2 separate regions of the Homo sapiens genome follow, and region 2 is linked to region 1. A link means that fine-mapping ties the variant in region 1 to the expression of a gene that starts in the linked region. Tissue or cell type: whole blood. Region 1 holds a variant in brackets; the other region holds the start of a gene. All regions are shown on one strand. Distances are between the middles of the regions.

What was found. PIP is the estimated chance that this variant, and not a neighbour inherited with it, causes the effect.
Region 2: LINC01801 starts here. The variant in region 1 is fine-mapped to the expression of LINC01801 in whole blood (TOPMed, PIP above 0.99).

Annotation. Positions count from the first base shown.
Region 1 is chr19:34,983,037-34,991,141 of GRCh38, reverse strand. No RefSeq gene overlaps it. Among named protein-coding and RNA genes, the nearest start is that of GRAMD1A, 13 kb to the left of the region's middle. The variant T/G (reference allele first, on the strand shown) is at 4,184.
Region 2 is chr19:34,828,331-34,836,435 of GRCh38, reverse strand. LINC01801 (long intergenic non-protein coding RNA 1801) reads left to right here and starts at 3,567. Exons shown (of 6, transcript NR_033982.1): 1 at 3,567-3,711; 2 at 3,900-4,106; 3 at 5,910-6,030; 4 at 7,183-7,272.

The DNA of each region.
Region 1 (8,105 bases):
GGTGGGTTGGTGAGTTGGATGGTCCAGATCTTGTGCTGTTTCTATAGCACTTTTCCACAAGAAGAGCTGAGGCACAGATAGGTCGTGTGCAGGCCTGAACATCTCCCACTCCCACGCAGGTACTCAACACAGTGTGGGCTTGCGTATTTCTGACACACAATAAGGAATAACGTGATATTTGCACTCCCCAGATACATGAAGATTTGTTGACCGTATCTGTCTGTTTCCAATGAACTATGACTTCTGGTTTTCCCCTAAATATGCCCACTTGGGTCTGGTTAAGTTTTGACGTCTTACCAAATCTCGCCCACATTCTCTGTAAGGTTTTGACCCAATCCCTTCCCATATTTTCCACTCGGGAAAGTCCCTAACCTTTGATGTCCTACCCTCAATCCTTTGATCACAGCCTGGGCGTTCTCCCTTTGGGCTAGATGGAGCCCCGTTTCTGTAAAACTGATGCACTCCTATGCACTAACGAGGTGTCCATGGCGCAAGCTGCACAGGTCCCTCCCCGCCACCCCAAGTGATGCTGGGGCCTCTGTTTCTCATGAACTTCTGCTTTGTCTTTTGGACATCTTGGATCAAAGTGCTGCTGTTCTCTCAGCAAAGGCACCCAGTCCAAGGCCATTTCCTGCCCTTAAACTTGCGGCTATCCGGGGAGAAAGCTTGGTGTATCCTGAATTGTCCAAGGAGCTAGCATCTTGACAATAACAGGACAGGAGGGATGAGAATGGATTTTTTTTTTTTTTTGCATTTTATGAACCAGAGCATTAAAGTTTGGGCCTCCCAAGGGTTCCTTTCCTCTGCCCAGCTTCCCCCCTAGTACCTCTTCCCTGTTTTGACTTCTCATTTTATATACTTTATTCCCACCCTGAACACCCTGAGGGGCCCAGAATGTATTCTAAGAAAGGATGCCCATTCTGCTTCTGAAAACCTAGAGCAACAAATATTCCTGACCATTTGAGTTCATTTTTGCAAGGAGTTGTCAGACCAAATATAACATTTTCTGTGGAAAATACCTATTTTGGAAGGATCTTTAACATCCAATGGAAATTCCATCCCATATTTCTTATTATTATTATTATTATTATTATTATTTTTGAGACAGAGTCTCGCTCTGTTGCCCAGGATGGAATGCAGTGGCGCAATCTCAGCTCACTGCAAGCTCCACCTCCTGGGTTCAAGAGATTCTCCTACGTCAGTCTCCCGAGTAGCTGGGATTACAGGCATGCGCCACCACGCCTGGCTAATTTTTGTATTTTTAGTAGAGATGGGGTTTCACCATGTTGGTCAGGCTGGTCTCGGACTCCTGACCTAAAGTGATCCACCCACCTTGGCCTCCCAAAGTGCTGGGATCACAGGCGTGAGCCACTGTGCCTGGCCGTCCATCCCATATTTCACCAAGACTGGGAACTCTTCAAGGAAACTCCAAGATAGTGGAGGCTCAGTTTCTGCAGTGATGGAGGGGGTGGGGGTGGCTGTGATAAACTGCAATGATTTTCTGGGCTCTCCCCTTTCCCACTGACATACACATAGTCAGCTGCTCTTCTAGAGAATGGGAATTAAGCCTCAGACACTTAGACACGGTGCCTCTAGTCAATGAGCGTACAGCCCTCATCTGGAAAGCGTGGAAAACCCCCACCTCAAGGAAATTCCCCACCTCCAGGGATTTTGAGGGAATCTAACAATATAAGTAAGAGCCTGAGCTGAAGCACACACCCAGTGCCCACTCAACTGTTTTAGCTATTGTTAAATGTTCCCGAGAGAGTCGATTTCAACAACCACATCATATGAGATGCTGGAATGGCTCCTGCCTATCGTCTCTGCACTTTGGGAGGCAGAGGCAGGAGGATTGCTTGAGCCCAGGAGTTTGAGACCAGCCTGGACAACATAACAAGACCTCATCTTCACCAAAAAAAATAGAAAATTTAACCAGGCTGATGGCACATGCCTGTGGACCCATCTACTTGGGAGGCTGAGGCAGGCAGATTGCTTGAGCCCATGAGGGCAAGGCTGCAGTAAGCCCTGATCACACCACTGCACTCCAACCTGTCTCCAGACTAAAAAAAAAAAAAGCTGGATACCAGATTCTGGGGGAATACAGCTATGAGAAATGTAAGAATTCTCAAATGCTTGTCACTTCCCCATGTTGGTTTTGTTTAGCTCTGGGTGTTTTCCCACACCACTTATTAAGAAAGTCGTTAAAGGCTGGGCACAGTGGCTCATGCCTGTAATCCCAGCACTTTGGGAGGCTAAGGCGGGTGGATCACTTGAGGCCAGGAGTTCAAGACCAGCCTGGCCCACATGGTGAAACCCCCTCTCTACTAAAAATACAAAAAATTAGCTGGGTGTGATGGCGTGCACCTGTAGTCCCAGCTACTCAGGAGGCTGAGGCAGGAGAATCCCTTGAACCCAGGAGATGGAGGCTGCAGTGAGCCAAGATCGCACCACTACACTTCCAGCCTGGGTGACAGAGCAAGACTGTCTGAAAAAAAAAAAAGAAAAAAAGAAAGAGAGAGAGAGAAAGAAAGAAAGAAGAAAGAGAAAGAAAGAAAGTTGTTAAAATGAGAAGTTGATGCATGCCTGTTTGCAAAGGGAGAAATTGGAGCAATTCCATTTTGCTCTGCAGTCAGGTTTGTGAGAAGAACCCTCCTATCAGGGCAGGTTTAGTTTAGTAAGGTTAATTTTTTTTCCTGTGTTTTTTTTTGTATTGGCATTATATATTTTTTTCTTAAAAAAATCCTTGAAAATTCAAGTATAGTTAATATTAACAGGAAACAGCCAGTCTTGCACCTGTGAACCTGCAAAAAGGCAGGGCAGGAGGAGGGGAACTGGCCACCCTAGCAGAGGACACTCAGGCTGCATAAGGAACAGATGCTTCTGGTGGGGACACAGGGCTCTCAGAGTGCCCACACTGTGACAGGTAAGATTTACAGACACACATCAACAAGGACATTGGGGTCACTCTCCACACTTCTGTACACTGCGCAAAACATCCATTCCCAGAGAAGGAAGAAAAAGTTAGCCAGGCTTGGGAAAGTCTGTACTCCAAACACTTTTTAAAATTTCCATTGGAGTGTTGTGCACATCACAAACAAATATAAATGAGTATTAATAAAGTGAACTTTTGTATTATTAATTTCCTTTGGCTGCCGTCACAAATGATCCCAAACTTTGTGGCTTGAAACAACAGAATTATTATCTCAGTGTTCTAGAGACCAGAAGGCCAAAGTCAAGGTGTCAGCCGCGCCATGTTCCCTCTGAAGGCTCTAATCCTTCCCTGCCTCTTCCAGCTTCTGTTGGCTCTAAACAGTCCTTAGCTTGGGGCTGCATAACCCTCATCTTTGCCTCTGTCTCCACATGGCCTTCTCCTACTCCCTGTGTCTCTTACAAGGACCCTTGTCATTGGATTTACAGCCCACTCAGATAATACAAGCTGATCTTATCTTGAGATCCTTAATTTAATTACATGTACAAGCTGTGTGCGGTGGCTCACACCCACAATCCCAGCACTTTGGGAAGCCGAGGTGGGCAGATCACCTGAGGTCAGGAATTGGAGACTAGCCTGACCAACATGGTGAAGGCTGGCCAACATGGTGAAATCCCATCTCTACAAAAAAAAAAAAAAAAAAAAATTAGCTGGGTGTGGTGGTGCATGCCTGTAATCCCAGCTACTTGGGAGGCTAAGGCAGGAGAATTGCTTGAACTCAGGAGGCAGAGGTTGCAGTGAGCCGAGATTGCACCACCACACTCCAGCCTGGGCAACAGAGTGAGACTCCATCTCAAAAAAAAAAAAAATTACATGTACAAAGACTCCTTTTCCAAATAAAGTCACTGTCACAGGTTCCGAGGGTTGGGATGTGGACATATCTTTTGGGGGGCTATTATACTACTTACTACAACACTCAAGTAAAAAGACCACAAATGTCCATTAAAGGTCCTGAATAAGAATGATCATACCAGCTTTATCCATAACAGCCAAAACCTTGAAACAACCCTAATGTCCATCAAAAAGAGAATGAATAAATAAATTGTGATATATTCATACAGTGGAATACTATATGGCAACGAAAATGAGCAAACTATTGCCGCAAGTATCAGCGTGAATGCATCTCCATTAATATAAAGTTCAAGAACAGGCGAAACCAATCCATGGTGATGGAGGTCAGAATAGTGCTTACCC[T/G]CAGGGGATAATGACTAGGAGGGCGCGAGGGATCTTCTGAAGTGTTGGAAGTATTCTATATTTTTTTTTATTCTTTTAGAGACAGGGTCTTGCTCTGTAGCCCAGGCTGGAATGAAGTGACACAATCATAACTCACTGTAACCCCAACCTCCCAGACTCAACTGATCTTCTCATTTCAGCCTCCCGAGTAGCTGGGACTGCAGGTATGTGCCACCACATATGGCTAATATTTTTACTTTTTATTTTTTGTGGAGATGGGGTCTCGCTATGTTGCCTAGGCTGGTCTCAAATACCTGGCCACACGGGATCCTCCTGCTTTGGTCTCCCAAAATGCTGGGATTACAGGTATGAGCCATTTGCTTCCAGCCAGTATTCTATATTTTCATCTGAGTGGTAGTGGTAGTCATATGAAAAATTAATTATACTATGCATTTAAGATTTATGCACTTTACTGAATGTATGTTATAAAATTTAACTTGTCATTAAAATTTTACGTATTTTAAACTCAATTACATGTACAATTTCATGTATAAAAACTCAATTAGTTTAAAATACATAAAAGTTGCAATATATCATCATTGTTAAAACTATTTTAACAGGCTTATTGAAGTATAATTGATATATGATACACTGCACATATTTAAATTATACAATTTTTATCTTTGATATTGACATTTGTATATATCCATGAAATCACCACCACAATCAAGCTAACCAACATCACCCACAAAAGTCTCTTCCTGCCCTTCTCCATATTCCCCATGCTCCCTACAACATTAAAATTATATTAAAATTTTCTAAAAAATGAAAATAAATAAATATCTGGTTGATCTTGCTAGTTGCAAAAAGAATCATAAGTAAAATTACTGCAGTATGCCTTCTTTCAGGAATTACACCAGACCAGCAAGGAGGATTCAGAAACATAAATGCACTCTGCACTTCTGGCATAACTAGGGGGTATCTGAAAGGTCAGAGGAGGAAGAGCTACCAACACAGGAAAAGTCAAGTGAGTCGAGGAGGAAGCCAAGAAGGAGTGCCCATGGTTCTGATCTTAGACTAAGCCTACAAGGCACAAGAGGCTCGTTGTGATGGGCAAACCAGCAGTCACCTGTTTGGAACACAAAGAGTGAGAGATACAGCCTGGCCGTTGGAACCTTCCTGGCACTTGCTGCCATTGATGTCTGGGGCCAGGAAAGCAGTGCTGGAGGAGGGATCAACACACAGTTGTCTGGACAGGATGCTGCCTGCTTGCCAGGAGGAGGTGGGGCTGAGCTGCTGCACTGTAAGTGGCTTTCCGGATGCTGTTCTTGGCCATCTGGGGCAAAGGAAGTTTAAGCAACTCACACATACACATATTCCTCTAAATTAGCAACGTTCCTGGAAACTGGAAATGCTTCCTGCTAGGCAGAAACAAAAGCTTCCCCCTACTGTGCACAAATGTCTTCAATTACTTGGCACAGGAAGAGTTCCCCCCAAGTCAAAGGTAGCTAAAAGAGAAATGCATAACCGGCAGATTTAGGGGTGGGAACCTGATGTCTGCAACTCACTTTAGACACATAAAAAAGTCATATAGAGCAAGTACAGTGAAATGTTAAGGGCATAGGTGGTATGTATACAGCTATTTGCTGCATAGTTCTTTCGACTTTTCTGTGTTTGGAAAGTTTCATTAAAAAGATAGAGAAGAAAGGGTATTCAAAGAAACTGAACAAAGTTATCAAAAGAAAAAGGATAAAAGCAACATTAAAAAAAATTCAGAGGCCAGGCACAGTGGCTCACACCTATAATCCCAGCACTTTGGGAGGCCAGGGCGGGTGGATCACTTGAGGTCAGGAGTTCGAGACTAGCCTGGCCAACATGTGAAACCGTCTCTACTAAAAATACAAAAATTAGCCAGATGTGGTGGTGCATGCCTGTAATCCCAGCTACTCAGAAGGCTGAAGAACAAGAAGGGCTTGAACCCCGGAGGTGGAGGTTGCAGTCAGCCAAGGTCATGCCACTGTACTCCAGCCAGGGTGACAGAGCAAGACTCTGTCTCAAAAAAAAAAAAAAATCAGATGAAGAAAATGCCATGCAGTGGCATGATCTCGGCTCACTGCAGCCTCCGCCTCCTGGGTTCAGGCGATTCTCCTGTCTCAGCCTCCTGAGTAGCTGGGACTACAGGCATGTGCCACCACACCTGGCTAATTTTTGTATTTTTAATAGAGACAGGGTTTCACCATGTTGGCCAGACTGGTCTCAAACTCCTGACCTCAGGTGATCCACCTACCTTGGTCTCCCAAAGTATTAGGATTACAGGAGTGAGCCACCACGCCCAGCCTCGATTCAGTTTTTAAAGAATAATTTAAAAAGCATACCTAGAAACCACAGAATACCAAAGAAAATGACATAATCTTAAAAGTGGCTGGAAATAAAGGATGGATTACATATATGAAAACAAAATTAGACTTTCTACTGATTTCTCAATAGCAAAAATGGGAACGAGAAGACAATGGAACAATAGCTTTGATGTGCTGGGAGAAAACACATGTCCATCTAGAACTGCAGGCCCAAGAATCATTCAAGGATGAAGATGAACTGAATACACTTTCAGAGAAAAACTGAAATATTTTGTATGAACATATCCCCCTAAAGGAAATTCTTAAAAAATTAGGTCAGAAGAAAGAAAAGCAATATCAGAGGGAAAATATGAGCTGTAAGATGGAATAACAAGCAATGAAAATGATAAATGTGTGGGTAAATCTAAACGGACAGTGATTGTTTTAGTCCATTTTTTGTTGGTATAACAGAATATACCACTATAAATTACAGACTGGGTAATTTATAGTGAACAGAAATTTATTTAGCTCATGGTTCTGGAGGCTGAAAAGTCCAATACCGAGTGGGTGGCATCTGGTTGGCTTCGGGGGAGGGGCTAGTGCTGCATCATAACATGATGGAAAAGCAGAAGAGAAGCAGGTGTGTGTCAAAGGGGCAAAACTTAAGGGGAACCTCACTTTATAACAGCCTGCCCTTGCAATAACCAATCCAGTCCCAAAAGAGTGAGAACTCACTGCCTCCAGAATTAACCCAGTCTCGAGAGAATGGCATCAGTCTCTCTTAATGACCAAATCACCTCTTAAAAGTCCCGTCACCCAACACCACCACACTGGGGACCAAAGTGGGAGGATCTCTTAAGACCAGGAGTTTGAGATCAGCCTGGGCAACATAGTGAAACCCTATCTCTATTAAAAAATTAACAGGGCATGGTGGTACAAGTGGTACAAGCCTGCAGTCCTAGCTACTTGGGAGGCTGAGGCAGGAGGATTGCTTGAGCCCCGGAGTTTGAGGCTGCAGTGGGCTATGATAGTGCCACTGCACTCCAGCCTGAGTGACAGAGCGAGAATTTGTCTCTTTTTTTTTTTTTTTTTTTGAGATGGAGTCTCTCTGTGACGCCCAGGCTGGAGTGCAGTGGCTCAATCTCGGCTCACTGCAAGCTCCGCCTCCCGGGTTCACGCCATTCTCCTGCCTCAGCCTTCCGAGTAGCTGGGACCACAGGTGCCCACCACCACGCCTGGCTAATTTTTTGTATTTTTAGTAGAGAAGGGGTTTCACCGCGTTAGCCAGGATGGTCTCGATCTCCTGACCTTGTGATCCGCCCGCCTCGGCCTCCCAAAGTGCTGGGATTACAGGCATGAGCCACCGTGCCCAGCCGCTGAGAATTTGTCTCTAAAAAACAATGACAAACTAAAAGGAAAACTTCTGGAAAGCAGAATAAAAGACAAAAGTGGATAATAAGAGACAATATAAGAAAATTAGAGGATAAATTCAGAAATTCCAAAAAAGAGAAAACAGAAACTCCAGTAGTGAAGAAAGTATTAAAGAAATGTCCCCATAACTGAAAGAAATTTGAAGAGCCTGCAGAGTGCTCCACAATTGTTAAAAT
Region 2 (8,105 bases), 150 kb after region 1:
ACAACTGGATCACAGCAGTGAGCAAATCAGGGCGTTGGGTCGAAATCAAAATACAGAGATAAATCTCTATAAATATAAACTGTTTTATTTGGGAAGTGAAAATTGCAATTCAGGGCACACAACTGGGCAGCCTTTTAGAAGAACAAATAGAAAGAGGTTTCGTTAAAAGAGCAAAGACAATTTATTTTGCAAAGACAACTCATTGGCACTAGTAAAGTTTTGGGGAGCTGGCAAGTTCTGATTGGTAAGTGATAGCAGTGGGTAAAAGTAATCATAGAGTCCGGCAGGTTGTTTCAGAAGCTACTACATAAAACCGTTTTTGGGTTACAGCAGGCAATTTCAGCAGCTAGGCTTGCAAAGAATTACATTCTTGGCGTGCCCTGAGTGTGTTTTCTCCTCCTGGCCTTCCAATTCTGTTTTAGTTGGGTATAACAAGAATGGCTCAATTTATATAATCAACTTTCACACTTGCCAGCCATAGGAAGCCAGGGCATCCTACCCATAAGTGACTCTCTCTCCAAGGGCTGAGCTGTTCTCTTCCTGTGCCGACAAACTGCTCCAGGGAGAGGGGATCTGGCTGATCCAACATGGGTCAAAGTCCCACAGTCCAGATATATGTGTCTCAGAAGGTGGGGGGTTCTCATGGTCCATGGACTTTCCTTCAGATAATGTTGGAATTGCTCCGAGAAGGGCTAGTGATTTTTACCCCTATGTTCACCATGCCTTTTCTGCACACAAGAGTGCTTGTGTCTTTGCTCTCTTCTTGCACTGCTCCTCCCGGCTGACCATCTTCCCATTCTCTGCCGTGCCCCTACCTTAACATTGTTTTCTAAATGAACCTTTTTCATGTTTAAAAACTGTTATAACAGTTAGAAAGAAAATCTGGCCTTCTCTGCCATTATTATGGCCAATTGCATCTACGTAGCAAAATCTGTTTATAAAACAATGATTTTAGAATGATATTCTTTCTACCTTTGCTTCGTTTTTTTCAAATCAAGTTTTGGAGGTAAAATTCAGCAATTTCAGCGGCTGCTGAGAAAAAAATTCAGAGTCAGGACCTGCCAATGAAGAGGGTCCCCAAAAAATACTCAGGTTTTCATGTAAAACGTCTGAAAGCCAGTATCCCAGAAATAAGGATAACAGGAGAGAGCCAGCCTTCAAAAAGAGTGAAGCATGGCTCTGACTTACATTAATCTCAGAATAAAGTGTGCTTTCCCATCCTAGCTGCCTTCTACATCCAAAGGTAAATCCCTTCAGAGGATTTATAGTAGCATCAATAAACATGAAATAAATCTACAAAAGACATGCAAATCGACAGGAGAATTCCAGAGCTAAATGTGAAAAGTTAAGCAATAAACCTCATAGTAGGCATCACTGAAAATTTCCATGATATTGGAAGTGATGCTGGGCAGGCAAGCCCAAATTGGGGCTTAGCTTGGGAGGGTTCTTTGCTTCACCCAGCAAAGGATTCAAGGGTGAGCTGGTGGTGGAAGAAGACAGCTCTATTGAAGAGGCAGTGTTACAGCTCTGTGACTGCTCCTGCAGAGCACGGTTACTCTATCGGCAGGGCGCAGAGAGCAGCAGCTCAGGGCAGTTCTGCAGTCATATTTACATCTACTTTTAATTGCATGCAGATTAAGGGGTGGTTTATGCTGAAATTTCTAGGAAAAGGGTAGTAACTTCTGGGTCATTGGGTCATTGCCATGGAAAGGAGCAGTAATTCCTGCATGTTGCCATGACAAATGTAAACTGACATAGCACACTGGTGGGTGTGTCTGATGGAAAGCTGCTTCCACCCTGACCCTGTTTTAGCTAGTCCTCAATTTGCTCCAGTGTCCAAGCCCCGGCTCTGGAGTCGAGTCCTGCGTCCTACCTCAGAAGTAGTCGAAAACATACACATGAATGTTCACAGCAGCATTATTTCTTTCTTTTTTTTTTTTAAAGAGAGATGGGGGTCTCACTATGTTGGCCAGGTTGGTCTTGAACTCTTGGTCTCAAGCAATCCTCCCTCCTCAGTCTCCCAAACTGCTAGGATTACAGGCATGAGCCACTACACCTAGCCACAGTAGCATTATTATTTCTAATAGCCAAACATCCATCAATAATAGAATGGGTAAATTATATTTGTTCAATGGAACATCACACAGCAATATAAAAGAATAAAGTGCTGCTAAAAGCAACAACATGGATGAATTTTATGAAGTGTTGAATGAAAAGACACAGCCACAAACAGGACACATGGTAGGGTTCCATTTATATAAAGTTTTTAAATAGGCAAAACTAATCTATAATGTTAAAAATTTGGGAGGGGCATAGTGACTAGGAATGAGCATGAGGTTGATTCTGAGGTGCCTGTGTTTTGCTTCTTGATCTAGATTACATAGGTTTGTTCATTCTGCAAAAATGTATTGAGGAATAGACAGATGATTTGTACACTTCTGTGTATGAATGTTATATTGTAAAGTTTCTTGAAGAATACCTGTTTACAAGAGTTAGAGAACATGGAAGCTCTTTCTCTGAGATAAAACATCTAAAAAGACAAAAATTAGCCGGGCGTGGTGGTGGGTGCCTGTAATCCCAGCTACTCGGGAGGCTGAGGCAGGAGAATGTCTTGAACCCGGGAGACAGAGGTTCTAGTGAACCAAGATCACACCACTGCACTCCAGCCTGGATGACAGAGGAAGACTCTGAGACTCCGTCACAAAAAAGAAAAAACAAACAAACAAACAAACAAAAAAGCCCTAAGTCATATCATGCCAGTCTCAGCAGTTTGAAACCCTCCATGGTTCCCATCTCTCAGTAAAAGGCAACGTTCTTATGACATCCTTCAAGGCCCCATGTAGTCTTTTGGTCCCTCTCCATCTCTGTCCTCCTGTCATCCACGTCTCCCACGTGCTGATTGGGTCTGGTAGGGTGACTGGGTGGCAAAGACCTCACAGAGGTGCCTTTCTGCTCAGGTGGCAAACAGGAGAGTCTATCTGGGCCCTGCAGGATGGATCCTTCCTGAGTCACTGAATATATTGGAGGTGCAGACAGCGCCAGAGAAAGGCATTGAGCCTGCCAGATCAGACACCGCCTCTTAGGGTCGACGGAACACCCAGGAGCAAAGACCAGAAATTGTGGGAGAAAGGCCTGGAAGGGGGCCGGGGAGAGGCACAGAGACAGCGAGGTGATGCAGGCTTGGTGGGAGCGGGTATGGTAGGCAATGGGGGACAGAGGGGCAGGGCACAGACAAAGCTTGCTGAAGATATGAAGAGCAATTGTGAGCCGGCGAATCCTTGGAGTAGAGGAGAAAATTGAGGTCTCCTGTTCAGCCCGATGCAGGTGAGATGCTGTTGGAACACGTGACAGAGAAAGGGTGTGTGAGCCCAGGGCTTGTGCACTAAGCGCACAGGAGCGAAGGGGGCGAGAAGAAAAAACGACGCCCAGCAAAGAGCGTCAAGGCCCAACCGCCTGCCCCCAACCGGTCTCTAGCGCCTCGTGACCTTCTGCACTCCGTTGCAGGCGTTTGGCACCAGATGGTCCCACGCGCTCTGTTCGACGGTTGGGGGCCGCGGACGCTGGTTGTCAGCAGCACTGGGTCAGCCGGTGAACGGGTGTGCAGCGTCCTCAGCGCCGCAGCAGTCAGCACCTGTGGGTGCTCTAGCTCTTTCCCTCGGGGTCACCGGAGGCAGAGCCTCCCCTACGCGGAGTAGAGGAGCAGCTCACATGGTGCGGGGGTGGGGATCGGGCTTCCTGGAAGGCTGGAAATGGGAGTTGGGATAAGGGGTTGGCGAGGGCGGGGCGGCACCGTCTACCGGGGTGACCGGTGTGCCCTGGCAGCCAGGGAGTCTGCTGCAGGGCAGGTATTAAGATTCGGAGAGACATAGGACAAAGAACCCTCGGCCTCTTCTTTTCAGGCAGCCGCCACAGAGGACACCAGATCATGCCAACACCCCCACAACTCCTGCCCGCCTGCAGGCAGCTCTGGGCTCAGGACACCGCCTGCAAGAACCTTTATAGCGCAGCTCTCCAAACCTTGGAGGCGAGGACATTCTATGTGCCCGCCCTGGAAAGGCCTGAACCTATAACATCTGGGCTGTGATGGTTTCTGAGGTGGACACCAGGTATTCTAAACTGCCCACATGCTTCACCCCAAAACTTCCCTTTCTAACAGGCAGTGTATTTTCACTTCTTTTAAAATATTTGGTAAAACAGCATTTAAGCCTTAGAAAGTTCCCCATCTCACCCCAGCCAGGGTTTGAACCCATGCTGTCTGATTCCACAGATCATGCATTTAACCACCAGACTTTGGTGTAGCCTCACCGTGTGTGCATAATGGATTACACTTGTTTATAATACTTGGGGTGCTTAGCACCATGTCAGAGCTGTAATGAGTACTTGCACTGTTAGGAGGTCTAACATGGTTCAATTTATAAGTGGACCATTGGCCACACCGGGTCTGGCTCAGTCTCCTGGGAGGATGTAGGCAGGGACCACCAATTATCAGCATATCTCCATGATGAATTTCTCCAGACAGCGTATCACTCTGTCACACAGGCTGGAGTCACAGCTCACTGCAACCTCGAACTCCTGGGCTCAAGAGATCCTCCCACCTCAGCTTCCCAAGTAGCTGAGACTGCAGGCATGCGCCACCACGCCTGATAATTTCTCTTCTAATTGAGCTTTGCAGAAAGCCACACAGCTGTCTGAGAGCTATTTTCTCCCAGGTATAGGGACAGGAAATGGCACCTCAGACTTCTGCAGATTCCACCCTGGCTTAAAAGCCCATGCCCCCAAGGACACCAATCTTTCTTACAATAACATAGACTATCTTTCAGGGTCCTGGCCAAGATGGACAACTTGCCAATATTAACTTTTCCAGGCCACAGGGATGATATATATCTCCATAGATTTAGGTCTTGAGTATTTTCTCCTAGAAATATTTCGCAGCAAGGGTCAGCACTGCAGCCTATGGGCCAACAAATTTAGCCTGTAGCCTACATGTAAGGCCAGTGAGTGAAGGATCCTATTAACAATTTTAAAGAGTTGCAGCAGAATACACAGAAACACAAAGAGTCTGTGTCACAGACAACGTGACCCACAAAGGCTATGCTACTTATTAGGCTGGTGCAAAAGTAATTGTGGTTTTTGCCATTACTTTCAAACCGCAATTACTTTTGTACCAACCTCATACTATCTGGCTTTTTAAGAGAAAATTTGCAACTGTTTTGCAGTTGTCTGTGCATAGATCTTCCACAGCTTTTGCTAATTTATTTCTAAGTATTCTATGGGGTTTGTAAATGCTATTGTAAATGGAATCTTTTAAATTTTAATTTTTGATAGTTCATTGGTAGAATATAGGTAATACATATAATACAGTCCAGTGTCGCTTTAACAATGGGAATACCTTCTGAGAAATGCATCATTAGGTGATTTTCGTCATTGTGCAAACATCATAGACTGTACCTACACAAACCTAGATGGTATAATTGACTATACTCCTAGGCCATATGGTATAGCCTGTAGCTACAAACCTGTACGGCATATACTGAATTTGAGGCAATTGTAACACAACGTTAAGTCTTTGTGTATCTAAATATATCTAAACACAGAAAAGAAACAGTAACAATGTCATATTATCTTATGGGAACACTGTCGTATATGCAGTTCATTGTTGACCAAAACCTTGTTATGAGGTGCATGACTGTGTATGTACATAAATGTATATATGCATACATATTGAGTTTGTATATTGAACCTCACTGAAATCGCTTTTGATTTCAGGTAGTTTCTTTGCAGATTCCATAGGATTTTCTACATACACAATAATGTTTCTAGGAATCATGTTTCTGTGAATAAAGCTAGTTTTCCTTCTGTTGTAATCTACATGCTTTTTATTTCTCTTTATTTCCTTCTGTATTTGCCAGGACCAACACTTGTCAGCATGGCACAATCAGGCATTTCTCTTCTAAGTAGGATGTGCAGCCAAAAACTCAGCTGTCTGTGAGCTGTCTTCTCCCAGGAACGAGGACATAAGATGTACATCAGGTAGATACAAGATCCATGCTAGCTTAAAAGCTTTATGCCCCAAGGGCACCAATATCACTTGCAATAATTCCATAGGCCAGCTGTCAGGGCCCTGGGTGAGATTGATAATTGACCAATATCAACTTCCCTAGCCCCTGAAAATGATGATGATGATGGGGTGTGTGTGTGTGTGTGTGTGTGTGTGTGTGTGTGTGTGTGTGTGTACTCACGTACTATATACATATATTGGCATATAGTAGTATATGGACAAAACAACTGCTTTTGATATATTTACTTTTGTATTGAAACCTTGCTCATTTTCTATTTACATTTTGTAGTTTCTTTGTAGATTCTTTAGTGTTTTTTTTTTTTTAGTCTTGCTGTATCCCCCCTAGGCTGGAGTACAGTGGTGCAATCTCAGCTCCCTGCATCCTCTGCCTCCTGGGTTCAAGCGATTCTCTTGCCTCAGCCTCCTGAGTAGCTGGGATTATAGGCATGTGCCACCATGCCCAGCTAATTTTTGTTTTTTTAGTAGAGACCAGGTTTCACCATATTGGCCAGGCTGGTCTTGAACTCCTGACCTCAGGTGATCTGCCCACCTCGGCCTGCCAAAGTGCTGTGATTACAAGTGTGAACCACTGTGCCCAGCCCTCTTTCAGATGTTCTACATAGACAAACGTTTTCTGTGCTTAAAGGCACTTTTCTTTCTTCTCTTTTAATCTCTATGCCTTTTATTAATTTTTCTTATCTTCTACATTTGCTGCAACATCCAGGAAACTATCAAATACAAGAAGAGACAATGGATATTCTTTCCCAGTTCCTAATCATAGGTTAAGAGTATTCAGTATGGTATTAACTGAAGATTTTTTGTAGATATGCTTTATCACAGAAATGAATTCTCTCGAATTCCTGCTTTACTTAGAATGTTTTTGGTAAGTGGTGTGAGACCCACAGCTATTGAGATCACCATAGGACATTTCTCTTTTATTCTCTTAATATGATGAATTACATTGATTGATTTTTAGGTGTTAAATGAATCTTTGCCTTCCTGGGGAAAAACTTACTTAGTCACAAAAGATCATCTTTTTATATTTGGTTTTCCTAAAGTGTTGCCAAAGACTTTTGTGTCTATGTTATGAGCGATATTAATCTGTAATTTTCTCTTCTTGTTAGGTTTTGATATTAGAGTAATACTGGCCTTATAGAATGAGTTACGAAAAGTTGCCCCTTTCTCCACTTTCTGAAAGAGTTTGTGTAACACAGGTAAAATATTGTTCTTACACATTTGATAGAATTCACCTGAAAAACCGTCTGGAACTGCATATTTTTTCTTAGAGGATGTTTATAATTCCCCATTACCCTTTTAATGTCTTTCAGATCTGACTCATGCCCTTCCCTTTTTATTCCTAATATTGGTAATTTGAGTTTTCTCTTTGTTATTTCTTCTTCAATCTTGATAGAGGTTTCTCCATTTTATTACACTTTATAATTTCTATATTATATATAGAAATGTCTATAAATAGAAATTAATAGAATTAATGTGTCTCTATCATTTCTATTTCCGTGTCTATTTTTATTATTTCTTCTTTTCCATTCATTTTATATTTAATTTATTCCTTGATTCTTCTACTCAGGGTAGAAACCTAAATCATTGTTTCTTAAAATGTTTCTGTTTTAAACATAAACGCTTAAAGCTGCCACACTTTAGCTGTCTATCACAAATTTTGATTTGCTGTGTTTTGCTTATTCAGTCCAAAATATTTTATATTTTTCCTTGTTATTTTTTAATATATTGATTATATAAAAGTGTGTCTTGCTTTCATTCTAAATATGAATATGAGTATTTTAAATATTTAACTATTTAAATTTAATATTTATTATAGTATTTATTTATTTAATATTTAATCTGTAAATTTTAGGATTTTGTAGATATCATATTGTAGATATCTACAATTTTGTAGATAGATCTACAAAAATTCTATTGTGATCAGAGAAAACATATTAATCTCAAAATTATTAAGATTTATTTTTTGGCCCAATCTTAATGAACATTCCATGTGCTCTTGAAAAGAAACATGTGTTCAGCTGGTGTTGGG